Linked DNA regions of Homo sapiens. The protein of the gene in region 3 purifies or fractionates together with the protein of the main gene of each other region. This does not show direct contact. Each region holds a gene or a part of one and is shown on either strand. Other genes may lie near its edges.

Evidence for each region.
Region 1: the proteins of HACE1 (region 3) and RARB purify together in Homo sapiens (affinity purification with western blotting, with the first as the bait; one study listed by BioGRID). This does not show direct contact.
Region 2: the proteins of HACE1 (region 3) and RARG purify together in Homo sapiens (affinity purification with western blotting; one study listed by BioGRID). This does not show direct contact.

The regions. Positions count from the first base shown.
Region 1 is NC_000003.12:25,581,761-25,585,374, forward strand, and holds part of RARB (retinoic acid receptor beta), read left to right. Parts: intron 1-3,614. UniProt on the Homo sapiens protein: Receptor for retinoic acid. Retinoic acid receptors bind as heterodimers to their target response elements in response to their ligands, all-trans or 9-cis retinoic acid, and regulate gene expression in various biological processes.
Region 2 is NC_000012.12:53,229,302-53,233,660, forward strand, and holds the start of RARG (retinoic acid receptor gamma), read right to left. Parts: upstream 2,909-4,359; 5' UTR 2,673-2,908; intron 1,935-2,672; 5' UTR 1,868-1,934; intron 1-1,867.
Region 3 is NC_000006.12:104,857,095-104,861,431, forward strand, and holds the start of HACE1 (E3 ubiquitin-protein ligase HACE1), read right to left. Parts: upstream 2,826-4,337; 5' UTR 2,549-2,825; coding exon 2,473-2,548; intron 2,453-2,472; exon of another isoform or gene 2,285-2,452; intron 1-2,284. UniProt on the Homo sapiens protein: E3 ubiquitin-protein ligase involved in Golgi membrane fusion and regulation of small GTPases. Acts as a regulator of Golgi membrane dynamics during the cell cycle: recruited to Golgi membrane by Rab proteins and regulates postmitotic Golgi membrane fusion.

The DNA.
Region 1 (3,614 bases), on a different chromosome or scaffold from region 3:
CACCAGAGCTCCCTTTCTCTTTCTTGTGAGGATATAGCAGGAAGGCAGCTGTGACCTAAGATGAGAGCCCTCACCAAGAACCCAGCCATGCCAGCTCCCTGACCTCAGACTTCCAGCCTCTAGACCTAGGAGAAGCAAATGTTGTTGTTTAAGGGGCCAGGTCTCTGTTACAGTAGCCTGAACTAAGACAGGAGGGCAGGGATCTTCCCAAGGTCACAGATGGGGGTGGTGCAAGATCGGGGTGGAGTGGGGTATACGGCCAGAGTGGTACTGGGCTACCTCCAGGCCTAACAGGATGTAAAAGAGGATATGAAGCATAAACAGGAGCCCTTAGGGATAGCAGAGATGAGAGAGTTGTGGGCCACAGTGAGCTAGACCACCAGAGAGTAACAGAGACAATGTGGGCGAATCAATAATGATGTTAACAATGAGCTATTAGAATAATGAATGAAAATTACTGGGCCTTTTAATGCTTTCCTGACAAGAACTTAAAATGTAACACTCAGTAGAATTTCCCCTAAACCTCATAACACTTCCAAGATATTAGCAGAGACTGGAGTTACCACCACAGTGTCTGAGTGGTCTGTGAGGTGACTCACAGCAAATCAAGTCCACAGCAAGCAATGCTGTGTCATTCTGACAGCCCTGCATCACGCAGCCACCCAGCAGGGCCTGGAGCCTTCCCAGGCCTCAGGCTCTGACCTTGACCTTCTGCTTGTTTCTTAATCCTTCTTTTGTCTAGTTGCCAGATGATGACAGTTTGTGATACTCAGCCCCAACATATGGAGTGAGAGGTATGCTTTGAGATCCTCCGGGAAAGTGTCTTATTTCTGCACAGCCACACACTTAGTGATCAGGGTGCAGTCTCCACAAGATTTAAATCCCCTTCCTCAATTTAGAAATCCCCTTCCTGCCTCCAGCACCTCTCTTCCCACATCTCAGCTTACACTGAATCCTGCAGCACTCTTCCAGCCCCATGGATCCAAGCATTAGCCATTAGCCCCTTGGTAGAGTCAGTAGAACAGAAACCAATTTTTGTGACCTTGGTGAAGTTATTTAACTTCTCTAAGCCTCTGTTTACCTATGTACAAAATAGAAATGCAAATCAACAAGGCATTAAATAAGGTAATTACTTAAATGGGATTAAATACATTAACAGCTGTAATACCTAGCACGTAGTAGGTACTTAGCCAATGATGTTGATGACAAGGCCAAAGCTGGGTTAACGTGGGCAATTTCAGCCCTGTGGTGGGAATCAGGAAACTTTCAACCACTCCTTCCTGGGCCATGGGGGTGAGGAGTCTGGGTTGGGGTGCAATAGGCCAGGGAGGAAAATGTCCCGATAGTTAAAGGGCAAAGACCTCCAATCATACCAGACAAAGTTCGAAGGAATACCCATTTGGCCCTAGGCAAGAGCTTGTTTCCAAGAATTTGTAGCAAAGGCAATTAATCACAAGATCCTGAAAGTACGCAAGTTCAAAGAGCATATTTTGAATGAGAATATTAACTGGCAGAGCTGTTTAGAAGAATCTTCTTATCTAAGTCATTGATATATGGATAGAGTGGGACAGAGTAACCAGGCGGATGGACAGACAGACAGACCCAGGCTGAGGTTATTCTCAGACCCTAGAAAGGAAACCCAGGCTGTCTCAAGGGTCACCAGCCCTGATTGAGTACCGCCTGTTCAGAGCCACGTGTCTCGTGTTGTGTGTGGTCTCTCAACAAGACAAGGTAATGCTTCCAACTGCACGCCTGCCAGGGCTGGCACTTTCACAGGAAGATGCGGTCAGCTGCGGGACACGCAGCCGAGGCTCTCCAGGAAGGGTTGATTCAGAATCATGAGGTGAGAGCCCTCATAATACAGGCAGATGGGGATGGAAGGCCTCACCTGTCCTGCCCTTGCTCACCTTCCAGGGGAATTTCCCATCCTAGCCTTTGCTCGGTGGGGACCATTTAGTGGGCAGCCCACAGCCGGGCTTCCTTCACGAGGTTGGGTCCAGAAGATTCTGAGGCCACACTTTGAGTTTCATGTTTTCCCACAGGAGCCAAGTAGCCAAAAATGTCTCTATTAAGACAGGCAGCCTCTTCATAACCACTGCAGATGGGTTTTTTATGTTTCTTTCTTCACTCAAGAGTTGGTAGCATCCTAGGGCTGTGTTCAGGCAAGTGAGGGAGCCCCGGAGCAGGAGTGACCCCTTCACCTGGCTCTGCCCCCATGTTTCCTTCTCGTTCAATCTCCTTTATGCCTTTTCTTCCACTCTCTCTCACCTGCCTCTTCTCCTCTGCACGTAATTAGGATCAAGTCTCTCTCAACTTAAAATAAAAATCGTAAAAACAAACCTTGAGGTGGTCAGACTTCGGTTTCTCTGCCTCTTCTCTCCCTCCACCCCTCTTCCCTCCCTCCCATCCTTCTCTTCTTCCTTCCGCAAATATCTGTTGATGACCTACTGTGTGCCGCGCACTATTCTAGGCTCTGAGGAGGCAGCAGAGGGAACCAAGCTAAAACCCCAGCCCTCATGGAGCCGACCTTCTCCTGGTGGGGGGACACAGACAGTAAGCAAGCAGATACGTGGATTAGACAGCGTCTTACATGCAACAGAGGAGAACAGAAGCAGAATCAGGGATGGAGCACAACAAAGGAGGGCTGGGGCTTGTTTCTGTAGCTCAGACACAGGTGGCATTTGAAGAAACCTGAATGAAGAAACAATTTCCCAGTGTTTCCCAGAAAGAGCCAGGCCCAAGAAAAGACACTGATGGGAGGGGTGTGTGAGTCGTGGGGAGCCTAGAGAGAGTGGAGTTCAAAGGCCCTGGGGCAGAGGAAGCCCCGGCAGGTTGGAGGAAGTGAGTGTGCCTGGAAGGGAGTGAGCCAGCGGGGGCGAGACCTTAGATCCTGGAGTGGGGCCTGTGATCGTGCACAGATTCTCCTTCTTGGTATCCTATAGAGTCACTGGGTTTTGAGCAGAGGTGTACCACGGTCTGACTTTTGGTTTAAACGTTTGCTCTGTCTTGTCATGTAGCACTGCGTCAATATTGGTTGAAGTCATGATTCTCACATGTATTTACTGAGCACTTACCTCGTGGATGTGAGATGGCAGAGTGGAGGGTCCCTGCCCTGTTGGACTCTACAGTCAACTCCAACCCCGCCTGGCCTGCCCCTACTTTTGCCACAGTATTTATCTCCTCCCCTCACCCTCCGCCCCCACCCCACTGCACGCAATCCTGGCTCCACATAGATCCTGCTTTCCTTCAGCTTGCCCCAGCTGTTGAATGTGGGCTCTGAAACTAGCTTGCCTGGGTTCAAAATCTGGCTCTGCTGCTTACTAGCTGTGTGACCTTGGGAAAGTTACTTCCCTCTCTGAGCCTCAGTTGCCTCGTATTTACAATGAAGATGGCAATAGAAGCTTCCTTTCAGGCTCTAGAAAGCATGAAATGAAGTAGCACGTAGAGCTTGGAACAGTGTGTGGCACCCTACAGGCCTCAGTTATGTTCGGTATTATTGTTAAGTCGCACTATGCCCTCAGGGGTCCTGTTATTGTCCACATTTTGCAGGTGAGGCAGCTGAGGCCCAAGGGGAAGGCAAAGACCCATAGAGCTCCCTGGAAGAGTTTCCAGCC
Region 2 (4,359 bases), on a different chromosome or scaffold from region 3:
TCTAGGATGTATAGCTCTCAGTCTTTATACCTCTGGTTTTTATTTTTGTTTTTGCTTGTTTTTCTTTCTCTCCTCTACCTTGGCCTTCAAGCCCTTGAGGGTAAACTGTCATGGAGGTTACAAGAACCCAGACCCCAACGCCATCACATTTCACTCAGCCCTTATGAATGAAGCATCCCCTGCCCCTCACCATGGCACCACCCATACACCCAGCACCCTCAAACTCTTTAGCCCAGTGTCTTCGCAGGCCCTAAAAGTCTGAGCTCCAAGCCTCCAGGGTCCCTCTCCTTTTCCTTCTCCTATTCCCCTCCGAAGTTCTCATCCCTAGTTAAGCCCTGATGGAGCCAGGAGTTTGGGGGCCCCTGAGGCCCCTGGGCCACAGCTCAACTGGCCAGGCCACATTCCAGGTGGATTAACCCCTCCAATGACAAGGGTGAGAAGCTACTAGAGGACTCCCCCATCCCCATGTTCCCCAGACTTGGCTTAGACTGGGAACAGGGCTCTCTGCCTTAGCCCTCCTTGTCTTTGCTTCTCACCTACCAATGGGAAACACAGGCAGGTAGGGCAGTGGGGGTCCCCACAGAGGGATGCTCAGCTCCTGATCCTCACCAAGGAATGATGCTGCATGTGAGCCAATGAGAGTTGTCCTTGGCCTTCCTCTTATTTTGCCTCAGAGAAGGGACTTGGGAGTTGAGTGAAGAGAGGAAGGGGGTAGAGATTCCTCCCATTTCTGAGCCTTGGTTCTGTCGTGGCTGGGAAGAGAAGGGGAGGGTCTTAAACCCAGGGTAGGAGAATGGACTAAGGAATTGAAGGCAGTGCAGAGTAAAAGGAAGTCCTAAACTGAGGCCCCAGGTGCCTTGGTTCTTTGGGGGACTCATGGAAAGTAGAGAACATTCTTCCTCTACTAAGATGCCATCTCAAATGGTGGGGCAGCGGGGATGACAGACTAGGGGAGAGGGGCTCTTACAAAGCTGCTTCTCTTAGAGCTGAGGTGGAGTTGAGGGGAGGGCATGGATGAAGGGGGCTGCCGGATGGAGGGGGGTGTGTTTCCCTGTCGCCCTGCCCGCTCCAGAGCCTGGAACAAAGCTGCTCTTGTCGGCCACTCTCCACCCGCTGCCCCCCTCCCCTCTGTATAAACACGACCACCTTTTTCCATGACCCCATCTCCAGCCTGGGCAGAGAACCCAGGCATCCTCTGCTCTAGCCTGGGCCCCCAGCCTGCTCCCCAGGAGGCAGCAGTGGGCCAGGCTTCCTTGGCATTGTGCCATCCCTGGGGGAGTCCAGACCCTTGAGTCTCCACCTCTCATCCCCAGGTGCCCTCCCTCCACCCTACTAGCCCCAGGGAGGGGCAGTGCCCAGGAGGCAGGCAGGCAATGCCAGTGGAATGTGTGTGGGCATCAGAGGGCATGGACAGGGTGGGGCAGAGGGGGGAACTGGAGGTGCCAGTTAGGTGGCTTTCTGAGCCAGGGGTGGGGGTGTGCCGGGGTGTGGGGGGGCGTGCCCCATGCTGCCTACTAGGCTGTAGGCCACAGTGCGTGTGTGTGTGTGTGTGTGTGTGTGTGTGTGTGTGTGTGTGTGTGTATGTCTGTCTATATGGGATACCCAAGCTCCAGGCTCCCTGCACACACTACCCCCACTCCCCTGTCTTCTCTCTACTTGCCTCAAGGATATGAGATGCTGGCTATGGTCCTTGACCCCAACTCAGCATCTGACCCTAAGGGCAGAAGCCTCAGACTTGAGGATTGGGATTCCAGCTGCCCAGGACCAGAGCCCTAAAGCGGGACAGTCATCTCAGTTTCTTGCCCTGAAGACCTCCTACTCAGGCTCCCCTGCCCCCACCACCACTAACAACCAAGCATCTTCTTACCCGCTGGCCGCCTGCAGAGACTGGCTTCTACATACTGGGTCAGGTTGAGGGAACTGGGCCGTAGCTGCTAAAGACAGAGAGGCAGCGTCAGTGGAACTCTGGGACCAGCACTCCTGGGTCCCTGTCCCGGTCTTCCTGCTCTTTCTTTGTTCCATTTGGGCTTCCCTCAAGAATACTCCAGAGGTGCCCCCCACCTTGGCTGGAGGGAGCCAAGGCTCGCACCTGGGCTGGGAACGTGTGGGAGGGAATCCAGCGCTTCAAGGAAAGTTCACAGATCCCTATCCTATGCACCAGTCCTTCGGAACTCCTGGACGCGGAGGGCCAGGCTCACTTGCCTCTGGACGTTTTCCTTGCCTTCTGATGTCCAAGCTGTCCCATTCCACTGGGGAGGGAGGAACTTGGACCAGCATGGAACATCAAATCTACCCCTCAGAGCCCGGGGGTAAGGGGGTGGTAGTCTTTCCCCGCGAGAGGAAACCCTGTCTTCTCTCACATTCCCAGCACAAAAATATAAGGAGGAATGCCCCCTGGCTGAAGACTTCCCCAAATGCTGTCCTCTGCTATGCACCAAAATGAAGGGCAGATGACCCAGCCCATCCTCAGCCTGTTAAAATCTTCCCCATTCCCTTCCCACAGCAGGACTGGCCTGGGTCGGGGCAAGAAGCCCCCCTCAAGCCCGGCGGCCAGCCTGGCCAGCCTCGGGAGGGCATTCGCCCGTGCAGCTCCTCCGCGCCCCCTCCCCCAGCCGCCTCGCCGGAGGACCCAGGCGACGGGGCGGGCGAGCCTGCTTCCCCGCCTGACTCACCTGGAGTGGGAGGGGGAAGGGAGGCGGCGGAGCCCCGAGGTCCCGGCGTCGGGCAGTCTCTTGGATGGAGCGTCGCAATGTCCGGGGCTCGCCGTACTGGGGGGCTCCTGGGGGGGCACGGCTCTAGGCTGGGACTGTCCCGGGGCCTCTCGGAGCCCGCCCGCCCACGTGACCGCCCCAAAATATCCGACACATTTTCTCCCAAACCGCACACTGACTCTGCAGGCGGGGACACGGAAAATATTTTCTTTCTTTTTCTCCCTCCCCACCCCCCCCCCAACCTCCCTCCCTGCCCAACTCCCTCCTCCCCCTCCCGCCCTCGCTCCTCCCTCCCCTGCCTGCCCCTGCCCGGCTCCCTCCTCTGTGCCCTGGGGCTGGGGGGCGGAGGGATGGGTGGGCGGGAGGGGGACTGGGCGGGGCGGCCCGGGACGCCTGGGTCTCTGCCCTTCCCATTTGCTAGGCTTCCGTGACTCCATCCTCTGGGAGGCCGGGCACGGCTGGCAGAGGAGGTCAGTGTCCTGGCCCCGTGATGCCAACCTTTTCTCTCTGGCACTTTTCTCCTTTCTGCCTTTTGGGGGGACTAGTTGAGTTGTCTGTGGCCAGGCTGTGACTCTTGCGAGGCCAGTCTCTGGCGCCTCCCCAGGGTAGGCAATGGGGCGGTACCCACTCCCTCCCAGTGCTGGATTGGCCGGGCAGGAGTATGCCAGATCTAGAATAGATGCTCCTGCCCTTACTCTTTGCTCAGCCTTCACCTGCAGATCCAAGTAGCCTCTCCCTTCCCCTAGCCCACCTCAGTCCTTTGGTCCCAGGAGCAAACTGGTTGACTAGTGGCTGTTGCTGGGGGTGCTGAGGCCAGGGCTCACAGACATCTTCCCTGTCATCTTGCCTGGAGTAAGCTCCAGGAGTTAGGGCGCCTGGGTCCCTGGCTGCCAGTTGTCCCCCACCTTTAGGCCTGGATTTGGAAGGGGAGAGGCTGGAGAGGAGGGCAGGAGGAACTGTGGCTGGGAGTGGGAGGAGCCTTGGGCTGGGTGTGAGAGAGAAAGCCCAGGCAGAGGGTGTGTGTCTGCCCTAGCCAGCACCGGCCTGCCTGCCTGCCTGCCTGGTAGATGTGCCATGAATGCTGTTGACTCCGGGTGTGTGTGTGTGTGCGTGTGTGTGTGTGTGTGTCTGTGCAAGCGCGTGCGCATGCCAGTGCCGAGAGTGAGTGTCTGTGTCTGATGGGGGCATTATCTGCTTCAACATAGACAGACTCTCAACCCTAGAGTGAGAGAACCCAGTGGTTTCACTCTGCATTCTACTGAGGACAGAGGGAGAGAAAAGAATGGGTCTGCAGTCCAAGCTCTGTGCACGGATCCCAAACACTCCCATGGGGACTGGAGTTGGGAGGGAGAAAGAGGAGAAGGGGAGAGTCTGAGCTAGGCTGATAGGCTGGACAGACATACCCAAAGTACCTTCCCCAGCAATGCTCGCAGGGTGACCAGGACCTGGGACACAGACTCCTGGGTCACGTCACATTTTCCATACTGGAATTACTTGGCTTTGTCCTTGCTCCCCCCTGGGGGCCAGGTGTCCTCCCTCCTGGGAAAGGCTGCTTTTGGTAGCCAAAGTCAGGTGAAGGAGATGGGGGAAAGAAGAGGCATGCTGTGGTTACCTCAGGGAATGGGAGATGGCAATGGGGGTGCAGACA
Region 3 (4,337 bases):
TTCAGCTCTTAAAATGTAAGCACAAATGTGGATTTGTATCAGTAGGAATGTTATATATATATTTACATATATATATTTATTTACATATATATTTACATATATATTTACATATATATATATATATTCCTATATGTATGATATACTTTAAAGAGCCAAGCTCAGAGAATTCAAAGACTCATCAGAGCTTAGAGACAAAGATAAATTAAATTCAAGGAACAAAATGAACATTATAATCAAAGAAAAGCAAATGCAAACGATGCCATTTTTGCCTATGTGGAAAAGTTTTACTTTTACTAATAATACTCTAGTTTCTGGGCACTCTCGGACTGCTGGTGGAACTTTCCAAGGAGTAAGTTGAGAAACTGATATGTTGAGCCTTAGAAATGTATTGTAGATATTCTTCTTGTAAGAATTAACCCTAAGGAAGTATTTAGAGGCAGACTATGTCTTAAATACAAAGCTGTTTCTCATAAAATCAGTTTAAAAACAGTATTTAGATTCAACATTTGTTACATGCATCCTATGAAATTCTGAAGTCATTAAGCCTATTGAAGAATACAAAAAAAAAAAAACATTTGGGGCGGGGCACGGTGGCTCACGCCTGTAATCCCCCAGCACTTTGGGAGGCCGAGGCGGGCAGATCACGAGGTCAGGCGATCGAGACCATCCTAGCTAACACGGTGAAACCCCGTCTCTACTAAAAATACAAAAAATTAGCCGGGCCTGGTGGCAGGGGCCTGTAGTCCCAACTACTGGGAAGGCTGAGGCAGGAGAATAGCGTGAACCCCGGAGGCAGAGCTTGCAGTGAGTCGAGATGGCGCCACTGCACTCCAGCCTGGGCGACAGAGTGAGACTCCGTCTCAAAAAAAAAAAAAAAAAAGGATGTTTTCTAAACACAAAATAAAAGACTATATGCAACATGATTTTAACTTGTTAGGGAGGGAAAAAGAAATAACAATGGTAACACTGTTTATAACTGGATGGTGAAATGACATATTTTTTTCTATTTTTCTTTATTTTCCAAATTTTCTACAATGAAACTATATTACTTTTAAAACCAAGTAACATTATCAAAGTCTTCTAAATCACATTTATGTAAAAAATATCGGGATTCAAACTAGACAATATAAATTATACATGTAGTCTTCATAAAGCTATACCAATAATTCGACTACGAAAAATAAGTAAGAGTAGCACTTAAGAAATGGATTCAAAGGTGGAAGTTGGAAAGAAAATATAGAAAAAGTTGAAGCTAGAATCTAGTTACCAAAATCTGAATTCTAAATAGAGACTAGAGACCATTTTTTCAAGAAGATTATCCCCAGGCCAGGCGCGGTGGCTCACATCTGTAATCCCAACACTTTGGGGGGAGCAGGGTGCGGATCACTTGAGCCCAGGAGTTCAAGACCAGCCTGGGGAACATAGTGAGACCTCATCTCTATAAAAGAAAGGAAAGAAAATTATCGCCAAAGTACCCAATCCCACATTTCTTTCATGACCGTCTGCCAAGGTCTCCTTCCCTATCCTACAAACCACCCAGCAGCAATTCAAAGAGAGTTTTGAAAAAGTAAGATAAACTACTACAATTAAGAAAAAAGCTATTCACCAGCTACAACCTCCTCCCAACCCTTCTCTCACTTGGGCATAAAGAGCCAAAAGCTTCTTAGAAGCAGCACTGCTGTCTCCCATCACCACTAAAATGTCTGAATTCCTGACGCTGCAAACAAAACTGCTTATTTTCTCTCCTTGTTATTAGCAGAGTTTTACCTGTCCTGAGGGAACCCTGGCACGCTGAACTAAAAGTCCTGATCCTCAGGGACCATGCCTTATTCCTCTTTGCAGATGCGTCCTAGTTACCAGCTAGCCCACTCAATACTAGTCTGATGAATAAATGAAGAATGAAGGCAGGCATGCATATTAAAGAAAAATATATTGTGTTTACCCATACAGTACTTTAAGAGTACCTGTTTGATGTTTGACAACCCTTTGTTTGCCTGTTATCAAAACAAGGCAGTGCCCCACATTTTAAAAAATAACAAAAATAAAAGCCCGCCTGGCCCCCCGATGCAGCTTAAAGTAAACAGTATCTTTGGATCATCTCTATCCCCAGCTACTGTTAAATGACCCGCAATTATGATGTTTTCTGACTCCGGGTCTCGGGCCTCCGGCTGGTATTCCTGCCCCTTTGCCAAGACCCCTAATCGACAGACGTTGCGAGACCTTTGTCTCGCTCCTCCCAGCAGCGGAACCCCCACCAACCCAGTTTCCTCCCGAAAACTCCCACCTGCCGGGGTGGGAGCGTCGGGCCAGGGGAGTTCGGGGCCCGGGGCCGCCTCTCAGCTCTGGAAAGTAAAAGTGGGCGTTTTCTCAGCTTTCAGTTAGTTTTTCCACCCGACCTTGACGCGGCCGGAGCTCCTGCCCCACTGGCCGCCCCCAGCCCCGCGGCCAGCCTGGCCCCGCGACCCGGCTCACCCTCGGGCAACTCCACGGTGCGCGCGCGGCGCAGCGAGCGCGTCAGGCGGTTGAGTTGCTCCATCGCTCTCTCCATCCTCGGCGCGCCCTCCGCGATCCTCCGCGATCAGCCGCCCCACCGGCGGCCTCCGCGCCCAGAGCCCTACATCTCGCCTGGGCCCGTCCAGCAGGCGGAGACGCGGGCTTGCCCCGGCTAGAGCACTGAGCTGCGAGGGCTGCCTGGGGCCACGTCCTGCGTCCGGGGGCCGGGCTGCTGCCGGACCGACCACCTACAGTACACCCGCCGCCGCCTCTGCTCGCGCCTTTCCTGCAGCCCCCGCCGCCGCGTCCCTCCCGGGCTCGCGTGGCCTTCTGGGAACTGTAGTTTCCAGCTGGCAGAACGGAGCGCCCTGGGCGGAGTCACGTTGGGGGCGCCCAGGCCACGCCAACGCGGGCGCAGGGCTGAGTATGCGGGAAGCCACGCAGCGACTGGGCGTACTCCTAAGCTTCTGGAAAGGCATTCTCACGCCCTGCTCCTCCTACCCTCCTCCAAAGTTGTACAGGAGCAGTTTCCTCCAATTCTATAACTTTACTATAAAACAGATTAGAAATTGGCACAATTGTTCTTAAATCCGTCACCACCTTTCTAGTACTGTATTAGTGCCTTTGTTTCAGGTACCCTACATGAACTGTTTTAAGTATGGTATTTTCATATGTCAAACTTAAAGAGTAATAAAATCAAACAAATCCAAAAGCATATTGTGCTTTTGTCTTCATTGTAAATAACTTGACAATAGCTTAATTAGTTGTTTTTCCTGCCGGGCGGCTTTATGAGGGCAGGGACATTTAATCTTGAACTGTGTTGTATCCCTGTACTTAACAAGGCACCTAGCACAAAGTTAAAGCTCTGGGGAAGATATGAATGATGACAACCTGAAAAAATTTTTTCATTTATTTGGTACAATGCTAAAGTGTCTATGTGATGACACAGCCTAGTGGGAAATCCAAAGGATTTGACTTTGTAAGTTACAAAAAATTTGGATACCTACATTGTGGAAGAAATGAACTCAGTGGCGAAAAATCATATTCATAAGCTCTGCACAGAAGTTGAACACTTGAAACAACAGAAGTTGGAACTTCAAAAAATTAACCCAATCAAAGGGGTAAATGTGAGCCTGGCTAACACCAATATATCTTGGATATATTACCAGTGCCAAGATGATGCTGGAGTGAGGGAGAAACAAAAGGCTTGTCTTTTTCAGCTTCTCTTCCTCAAAGAGACAAAGCTGTTCCTGAAATGAATGGGCACATGTACGTTGATGATGTATGTTGGCTGGCCAAGTGAAAGAGAGTCTCACCTGCCCATTCAGGATATGAAGGGGCAGATGGTGGTTGGCATGTGTTTTCCCTGCCAGTGCCGTCCTAAATCAGTTCCAGCTAGTGACCATTTGTGCCAGTGGTGCCACAGGCACGGGGAAGACCTCTGTAATCTTCACCTAATCAGATGATACCTAAACCAGTCTGGCAACAAGGTGGTAGAGGTCAAAGTTTCAAAAGAATACCAGAGGCTGGGCGCAGTGGCTCATGCCTGTAATCCCAGCACTTTGTGAGGCCAAGGCAGGCGGATCACTTGAGGTCAGGAGTTTGAGACCAGCCTGGCCAACATGGTAAAACCCTGTCTCTACTAAAAATATGTATATACAAAAATTAGCCGGGCGTGGTGGTGTGCCTCTGAAATCCCAGCTACTCGGGAGGCTTAGGCAGGAGAATCGCTTGAACCCGAGAGACAGAGGCTGCAGTGAGCTGAGATCCTGCCATTGCACTCCAGCCTGGGTGACAGAGCGAGACCCTGTCTCAAAAAAAAAGGAAAGGAAGAAAGAAATACC